Homo sapiens: one gene and its partner. The protein of the gene in region 2 purifies or fractionates together with the protein of the main gene of each other region. This does not show direct contact. Each region holds a gene or a part of one and is shown on either strand. Other genes may lie near its edges.

Region 1 (3,500 bases), on a different chromosome or scaffold from region 2:
GATTTAAGTGTTGCAACACCTCCTTCTTCCCCTGAAAAACCCACAAGCATTTGTAGATTTAATTTATTTTACAAAGAATTTAAACCTTCAGACAGTACCTACCACATCCAGATTAGGGTACTTTCTTCGTACTAAAACCACAAAAATACTGAAAAAAAAAGTCTTAAAAAGCTTCAGTAACAACAAAAAAAACCCCAAAGTACAATGAGTGCATAGATTACAAGAAATTGGGAAGAGTAAAAAAAAAAATTTTTTTAAGAACTTTAATAAAAAATGAAGAAAAAAAGGCCAGAAACAGTATCAACATGCTGAACACTGGAGAAATAGAGAGGGATGAGGGATCAGCAGAATTACATACTAAATCGAGGACTCTTCAAGTTCTACCCTAAAGAAAAGAAAGCTTTAATATTAGGCAAGAATAAGGGTTTTTTTAAAATGTAGTATATTGTTATGGATCATATCAAAGTACAAGAAACATAAAATTGACCCAGTCATAATATATCAGTGAAGGAAAAAATAATTTAGAAATCAATTTTTTAAAAAAAGAAAAGATCCACAAATTATAACTTAAGAGAAAACTATCAGTATCAAAAAAGGATCACATAAATCATTTTATGGATTAGAAAACTGAAGTTCAGGAAAAGTGAAGTAATTTGGCTAAGGTCATGTCACTCAGTTAAAGTGTTGCAGCCTGGATGTGAACTCCCTAGATAACTCTACAACATTTTGTTCTTCTCACTCTTTTTCTGATAGAAGTGAAAATCCAAAAGTAATTTTAAAAATTATATAAAATAGGCCGGGCACAGTGGCTCACGCTGGTAATTCCAGCACTTTGGGAGGCCAAGGCAGGTGGATCACCTGAGGCCAGGAGTTCAAGACCAGTCTGACCAACATGGTGAAACCCTGTCTCTAGTAAATACAAAAGATTAGCCAGGCATGGTGGTGCATGCCTGTAGTCCCAGCTACTTGGGAGGCTAAGGCAGGAGAATTGCTTGAAGTGTGAGGTGGAGTTTGCAGTGAGCCGAGATTGTGCCATTGCACTCCAGCCTGGGCAACAAGAAAGAAACTGTCTCAAAAAAAAAAATTATATAAAAGTATAGCTCAAAAGTAAATCTGGCTTGAACACATGATGTAGACTCAACAAAGATGCCCCAGTGAGTCTCATTTTTCTACTACCTCATCAGTCCCCCTTGGTACTCATTACTGTACATAAATTACTAGTATATGGGAAAAGCCCATTTCTTAAAGTCATACTGAAAATCATTTTGTCTGATTTTCTATTTTAAACAAAAGTTAGATTTTTTTTCACTCTTCCCTTAAAGATTTATTTTAAACTCTATGTGTACAATAGAAAATAAGGCTTCATATAGCCATTTCTTTAATGAAAAAAATATTTTTAATTATTTACTGATCGATGACTGAAATGATCAAGCTTTGGTTTCTACTAAAAGAATGTAAGTTTGATTCAGATGTTTGAAGAATGTCTTAAAATTTCCTCAAATTCATTGGCTGTTTGTGGCAGATGATTTTGTGACACTCCCTTATAAGATAATTAATTTTGCTTTCCTTTGGCCTATACGGCATACTTAATGGTATTTAATACTTATTATGTGAAGCCCTATATCTAAAGGCTTTTTAAACGTATAATAAATTCTCCATCATGTACATACTATGAGCAAATAATTCAATAATTATTTGAATCATGCCTCCTAAATAAAATATATTTAAATAAATTATAATTATCTCACCTACATGACAGTTTTTCTTTTGTGATTCTACTAGGGTCTGGGGCGGTGGGGAGGGGGAGAGAAACTATACCAATTATTTTAACAAAGATAATTTAATATAAGTAATTGTTAACTGGGTATTGGAAAAGCATGGTCACCAGATCAGCATCATAAGCATCACCTAGAAACTTCCTAGAAATGCAAATTCTCAGACTCCAACTTCACCCCTGACTTACTGAATCAGAAACTCTAGTAGTAGGCCCAGCAAGCTGTGCTTTAACAAGCCCTCCAGCGGATTCTAACGCATGCTAAAGTTTAAAAACCACTGCACTAAAATATCACCAAGACAACCACTCATAGGACTGGGCAGAAAGAAAAAGAGATGGATGGACTTACTGAAACTGAGAAGCTTCAAAAAGGCCCCCATGGAACTGAAATTCAGACTTTTGAGAACAGGTCACTGCTTGCCTGGTACTGATTTCTCTGAGTTCAGAGGAGGGAGCCTATAGACCTGGGAACCAGGTATCTGAGGAAGAAGCACCCAGTAATTGGAGCTGGCATCTCAAGAAGGCACATTGAGATTGGTTCTACAAGTGTTGGAAAACCCCCAAATTGCAATCAGCTGCTACTACTAGCAGGCACTATTGCTGTCGGAGTGAAGAATTGTTGCTAGAGTGAGACTTAACAGGATTAAGAAACCCATCCGAAGGAAACAGCAAATTCCTTCTTCCTTCTCTACCTGTGAAGTGTCACGCTGGTCCCTCTATTGGCAGAGCCTAACAGGGAGACAGAAATGCTTGCAGAATTCCAAAGAGTGGGTTTGAAGCCAAGAGACAGTAGCTTACTGTCATGGCCTTAATTATAATACAAGTGGAAGATAATAGAAATAATACTTTAGGTATGTATAATTGGGTGCATGTAGACATTTTCTGGGATACTAACTACTGGGTAGACATTTGGCCTTATTGTAAAAAAAAAAAATTTGTATTAAAACTATTTGTTTCTCCTGATGAAATTAATAAGAGGCATTTAGGGCATCTATATAATGAACAGGAAACTATGCAAGGGCCTGCGCTGAAGTCTGCTTAGCTGAGCCTAAGACAAAGATCACAGCAGTAGTGGCTGAGGATTGCTCAATAATAACAGCAAACATGCTTTGGTCATCTGAGGCTCGGTTTCTTAACGTCTTAGTGTCAAAGGAACCGTCTAAAAAGAATCTTACCAGGACAGAGCAGTCAGGCCTTGCCTCATAAAACAGGAGGGTGGCAGAAAAGGGTGTTCTGAAATCATGGTCACTCACAAGAGAAATACAAACATGATTCTTCACTTAAGCAGTCATTTTTGTGCAATTCCAGGATCAAAAAGAACATTCCCATTGTGTTAACAGGTACTTGTAGAATAATTATCAGAAGTATGCCCAGCACTTTGGAAGATGAAGAACTAAGGTTCTTAAAGACGTTTACATATTTCTCATGTTATGTTCATGTTTTGTCTTTTTTTTTTTTTTTAAAGGATGTTGAAGACTCACAGAACCACACTGGTGAGCCGGTTGGAGATGACTACAAGAAAATGGGAACACTTTTTGGTGAACTGAACAAAAACCTTATCAACATGGGCTTCACAAGGATGTATTTTGGAGAACGAATAGTGGAACCAGTAATAGTCATTTTCTTTTGGGTTATGCTGTGGTTCCTTGGCCTGCAAGCCCTTGGACTAGTTGCTGTTCTTTGCCTTGTTATTATTTATGTGCAACAGTAAAACATGGCCGAATTG
Region 2 (4,224 bases):
GAGGCTGAGGCAGGAGAATCGCTTGAACCAGGGAGGCGGAGGTTGCGGTGAGCTGAGATTTCGCCACTGCACTCCAGCCTGGGCAACAAAGTGAGACTCTGTCTCAAAACAAACCAACCAACCAAACAAAAACATTATTATTCGTCACAAGCCTCTTCATCACCTGGAACCTTGTGGACATTACTTATCCTTGGTAACTTCCCTTCCAGAACACTATTGTTAATGGCTGCTATGGTCTGAACGTGTTCCCCCAAATTCATGTCCTGAAACTTCGTGGGAATGCGATAGTACTGAGAGGAGGGGCCTTTAGGAGACGATTAAGTCAGAAGAGTGGAGCCCCCGTTATGGGATTAGGACCCTTATAAAAGGGATTTGGAGAGTGGGCTCCCTTTGTTACCGTGTGAGGACGCCCGGGCGGTGCTATCAGTGAGGAACGGGCCGTCCTTAGACATGGAACCTGCTGCGACCTTGATCTTGGACCTCCCAGCTTCCAGAACTGTGAGAAAATAAATTTCTGTTCTTAATAAATTGCCCACTCTCAGGTACTTTGTTACAGCAGTGCAAACAAACTGAACATTAGCTTATTCCTTTTTACGATTTCTCTGCCTTCATTTTAACAGGCTTTCTGAAGGGAGGTGAGACAAAAATGTGTGATCCACGAGGACAGGAAATCGAGACCATCCTGGCTAACACGATGAAATCCCGCCTCTACTAAAAATACAAAAAATTAGCCGGGCGTGGTGGCGGGCGCCTGTAGTCCCAGCTACTCGGGAGGCTGAGGCAGGAGAATGGTGTGAACCCGGGAGGCAGAGCTTGCAGTGAGCAGAGATCGCGCGGCCGCACTCCAGCCTGGGTCACAGAGGGAGACTCCGTCTCAAAAAAAAGAAAAAAGTGTGATCTAATTTTATTGCTCTGAACCGAATCTCTGTACATTTTATTTTATTTAAAACTAAGTCGAGCTCTATAGAGGCTACATAGCCTCCCTCCCATTCTGGTCCCACACCAGACTTTGCATGGGCTCTTTCTACTATCAGCTTTAAATAGAGAACGTTCTTGTTCTGTTCATGAAGGTTTCATAAATGCTGGAGTCCAGTCATAACTAGAACTTTACATATCCGTTCCATCACTGTATTTTTCCAGATCCCTGGTAACTCCATAGCGCGGCTCTGTTGGGGCGCATGCAATTCCCTACTTTCTCACAGGGGGCGCTGCAGAGAAGGGCAGAGCAGAGCGCGCGGTCCCAGAGCGCGCCGTCCAGGAGGGGGCGCGTCCGTGGGGCTGTGTCTCTGCGAGCCCTGCGCAACGTTGGGGGCGGGAACAACCCTGGCCCTGCGCCCGAGCGCTGCGGCGCCTTGTGATTGGAGGAGGCAACGGTCACTTGGCAGCGCCGTTGGGATTGGGGGAAGAGGACCCCGGCTGGAGGTGACGCTGAGGCGGCGAGGGTGAGTCGGCGCCGGCCGCTACCGCACTTCGGGCGCTCGTCCCTCATTTCTCTGTGGTGAATGGCGACGGGATGGAGCGCGAGGGGAGCGGCGGCAGCGGCGGGTCGGCCGGGCTCCTGCAGCAGATCCTGAGCCTGAAGGTTGTGCCGCGGGTGGGCAACGGGACCCTGTGCCCCAACTCTACTTCCCTCTGCTCCTTCCCAGGTACGGCCCGCCCCGCGCCTGCGCACTGCGCGCCCCGCCGTCGCCGCTGCCGTGCTGTGGGCGCCCCGAGTCTGGGCGGGGTCCCGGGTGCGCAGCCTGCTGGCGGCGTGGGCGCTGTCCTCCGGGAGGGGGGCCGTGCTGCTCGCCCGGAGCCCCTTTCCCCATCACTTCTTCGGCGGTCCCTGAGGCGGAGCCCCGGAGTCCCGCTGGGCGTGAGATGCAGAGAGCGGCCGCAGGTGGGCCCGGGGCTGGAGGGCGCTCGGCCGCCACCCGAGCGGGTCTTGGCCTTGAGCTTCCGAGCGCCTCAGGTTCAGAGCTGCACCCCACGAGCCCGGGAGGCTGTGGTCCCCGCCCTGCCTGGGTTGCCCCACGGCGCCCGGCCTCCTTCGAGGGGTCTCGGAGCGGCCCGGCCGCGCTGAGGAGTCAGAGCTCGCGCTCCCCTTGCCCCGGGGCTGCAGCCCGGCCCCTCCGCGCAGGCGCTCGTTCGCTGATCGCGGGCGCCTGGGGCTAAATCCTCCCCCTCCGAGACCCGCTCCGCTTTCTAGGAATCTTTCCCAGACCTGGTGCCACCTGTTGCTGGGTCTCCCACTAAGCCTTCGAGATCTTTGGCACAGCTTCCTTTGAACTCTTCCTCCCCGCTGCGGCTTGAGCTGGGCCTGCTAGGAGGGTTGCTCAGAATTCTAATGCCAGGAAGAGCGCTCCGTGCCCTGAAAGCTGGAGGGAGGAGAGAGGACTTCACTTGGGAAGGAGGAGAAAAGCTTTGAGGGGAGGCACAGTTATTTGTGTGGTCCTTGAAAGGCAAGAAGACTAGAGCCCGTGGCCCTGGAAGGGGAGGTGGGGCTCCCAGCAGAGGGGACTGAGGTCTTCATAAACAATGAGGGACCAGAGCAGAGGGAAGGAGGACGAGATTCCAGACTCTAGTTCCAAACAAGGCACCTGTGATTTCTCATCCCCTGGGCAGCGACTGCCAGGCGCCGTTCAGCGGACACCTGGGACTTGCAGTGTTATGTGCCCAGGGATTTTCCCGGACGGGATTGTGAAGTAGCGGGTAAGGTCATCAGGCAGGTTGGGGTCAGATGCAGATGTTCGCTTGTGGTCATTCCTGAAATGAGAATCTGGCAGCTCACGTTATTTCAGAAGGTGCTAGGATCACTTTTGACAGTGATATCAAAAAATTGATGGTATTCTGGTGACCCTGTGTGATACATGAAATGTTCGTGCAATCTGGAGGCACTACTGGGACCAGATTAATCTTTGTTTCCTTAATTTTCCCCTTTCCTGAAAAATGTCAAGCCTGCCAAACAGTTGAGAGAACAGTATAACAAATACCCATGTACCCTTTACTTAGACTCAGTAATATTTTGATTCTTTGGCTTTCTGTTTCTCTTTCTCTCTCTCTGCTCTCTTTCTCTCTCTCTATATATATAACCACATGTATTACATACGTATCACACTTAGATGTAGGTCACATGTCCCATTTCAACTCGAGTCATTCAATAGGAAGTTGCAGAAGTCATAACACTTGCTTGATGCCTGATAATCTTAACATGTATCTTCTAAAAACCATTTTCTATCCATGAAACCATATCACATCCAAGAAACTGAACATCATAGAATAATGTTACCTAATGTGTGGGCCTTGTTTACATTTCCCCAATTGTCCACATAGATTTTTTTCCTTAAAAAAATATATATATTCCATGATCTAAGGTTCACACATTGCATTAAGTTGTCCGTCTCTTTAGTTTCATTTAGCTAAAACAGTTACTTCCTTGTTTGAATTTTTTAAGATGGACATTTTGGAAGAGTCCATGTGAATTGTTGTATAGACTGTTTTACAATCTAGGTTCATTAGATGGTCTTCATGATTAGATTTAGATTAAACATTTTTGGTCAGAACGCTACCTACCTAGGTGACGTCCACTCACCAGTACATCACATCAAGAGACACTGAATGTCAGCCTGGCTCAGTGGCTCACACCTGTAATCCCAGCACTTTGGGAGGCTGAGGCAGGCGTATCACCTGAAGTCAGGAGTTCAAGACCAGCCTGGCCAACATGGCAAAACCTTGTCTCTACTAAAAAGTCAGGCGTAGTGGTGTGTGCCTGTAATCCCAGCTACTGGGGAGGCTGAGGCACGAGAATCTCTTGAACCCAGGAGGCAGAGGTTGCAGTGAGCCAAGATTGCGCCACTGCACTTTAGCCTGGGTGACAGAGCGAGGCTTTGTCTCAACAAAAAAAGAGACATTGAATGTCAATTTGTATCTTCATTGATAATACTAAGTTTGATCATTTGGTGAAGATGGTGTCTATGAAAACTCTACTGTAAGGGTATCTGCATCCTCTCTTTACTACCAAGTTTGATCATTTGGTGAAGATGATGTCTATCAGAACTCTCTACTGTAAGGGTTCCTGCATCCTCTGTTAATTAAACGTCATATGTAGGGTCATAAGTTGGAACTGAATAGTCTGTTGAGTCTCTGGCTTTTAGTTCCCTTTCATTAAGAAAAGATTGAGATAAGTGGATTTGGGATAGGTTTAATACATCACAGTAGGTAATCTGTAGCCATGTGAATTGT

Evidence for each region. Proteins that work in one complex are often made in the same cells at the same time.
Region 1: the proteins of TMEM170A (region 2) and FAM241A purify together in Homo sapiens (affinity purification with mass spectrometry; one large-scale study listed by BioGRID and IntAct). This does not show direct contact.

The regions. Positions count from the first base shown.
Region 1 is NC_000004.12:112,183,454-112,186,953, forward strand, and holds part of FAM241A (uncharacterized protein FAM241A), read left to right. Parts: intron 1-3,239; coding exon 3,240-3,485; 3' UTR 3,486-3,500.
Region 2 is NC_000016.10:75,461,890-75,466,113, reverse strand, and holds the start of TMEM170A (transmembrane protein 170A), read left to right. Parts: upstream 1-1,424; 5' UTR 1,425-1,513; coding exon 1,514-1,646; intron 1,647-1,670; exon of another isoform or gene 1,671-1,863; coding exon of another isoform or gene 1,864-1,882; intron 1,883-2,607; coding exon of another isoform or gene 2,608-2,694; intron 2,695-4,224. UniProt on the Homo sapiens protein: Acts as a regulator of endoplasmic reticulum (ER) and nuclear envelope (NE) morphogenesis. Affects the ratio between tubular ER and ER sheets by promoting sheet formation at the expense of tubules.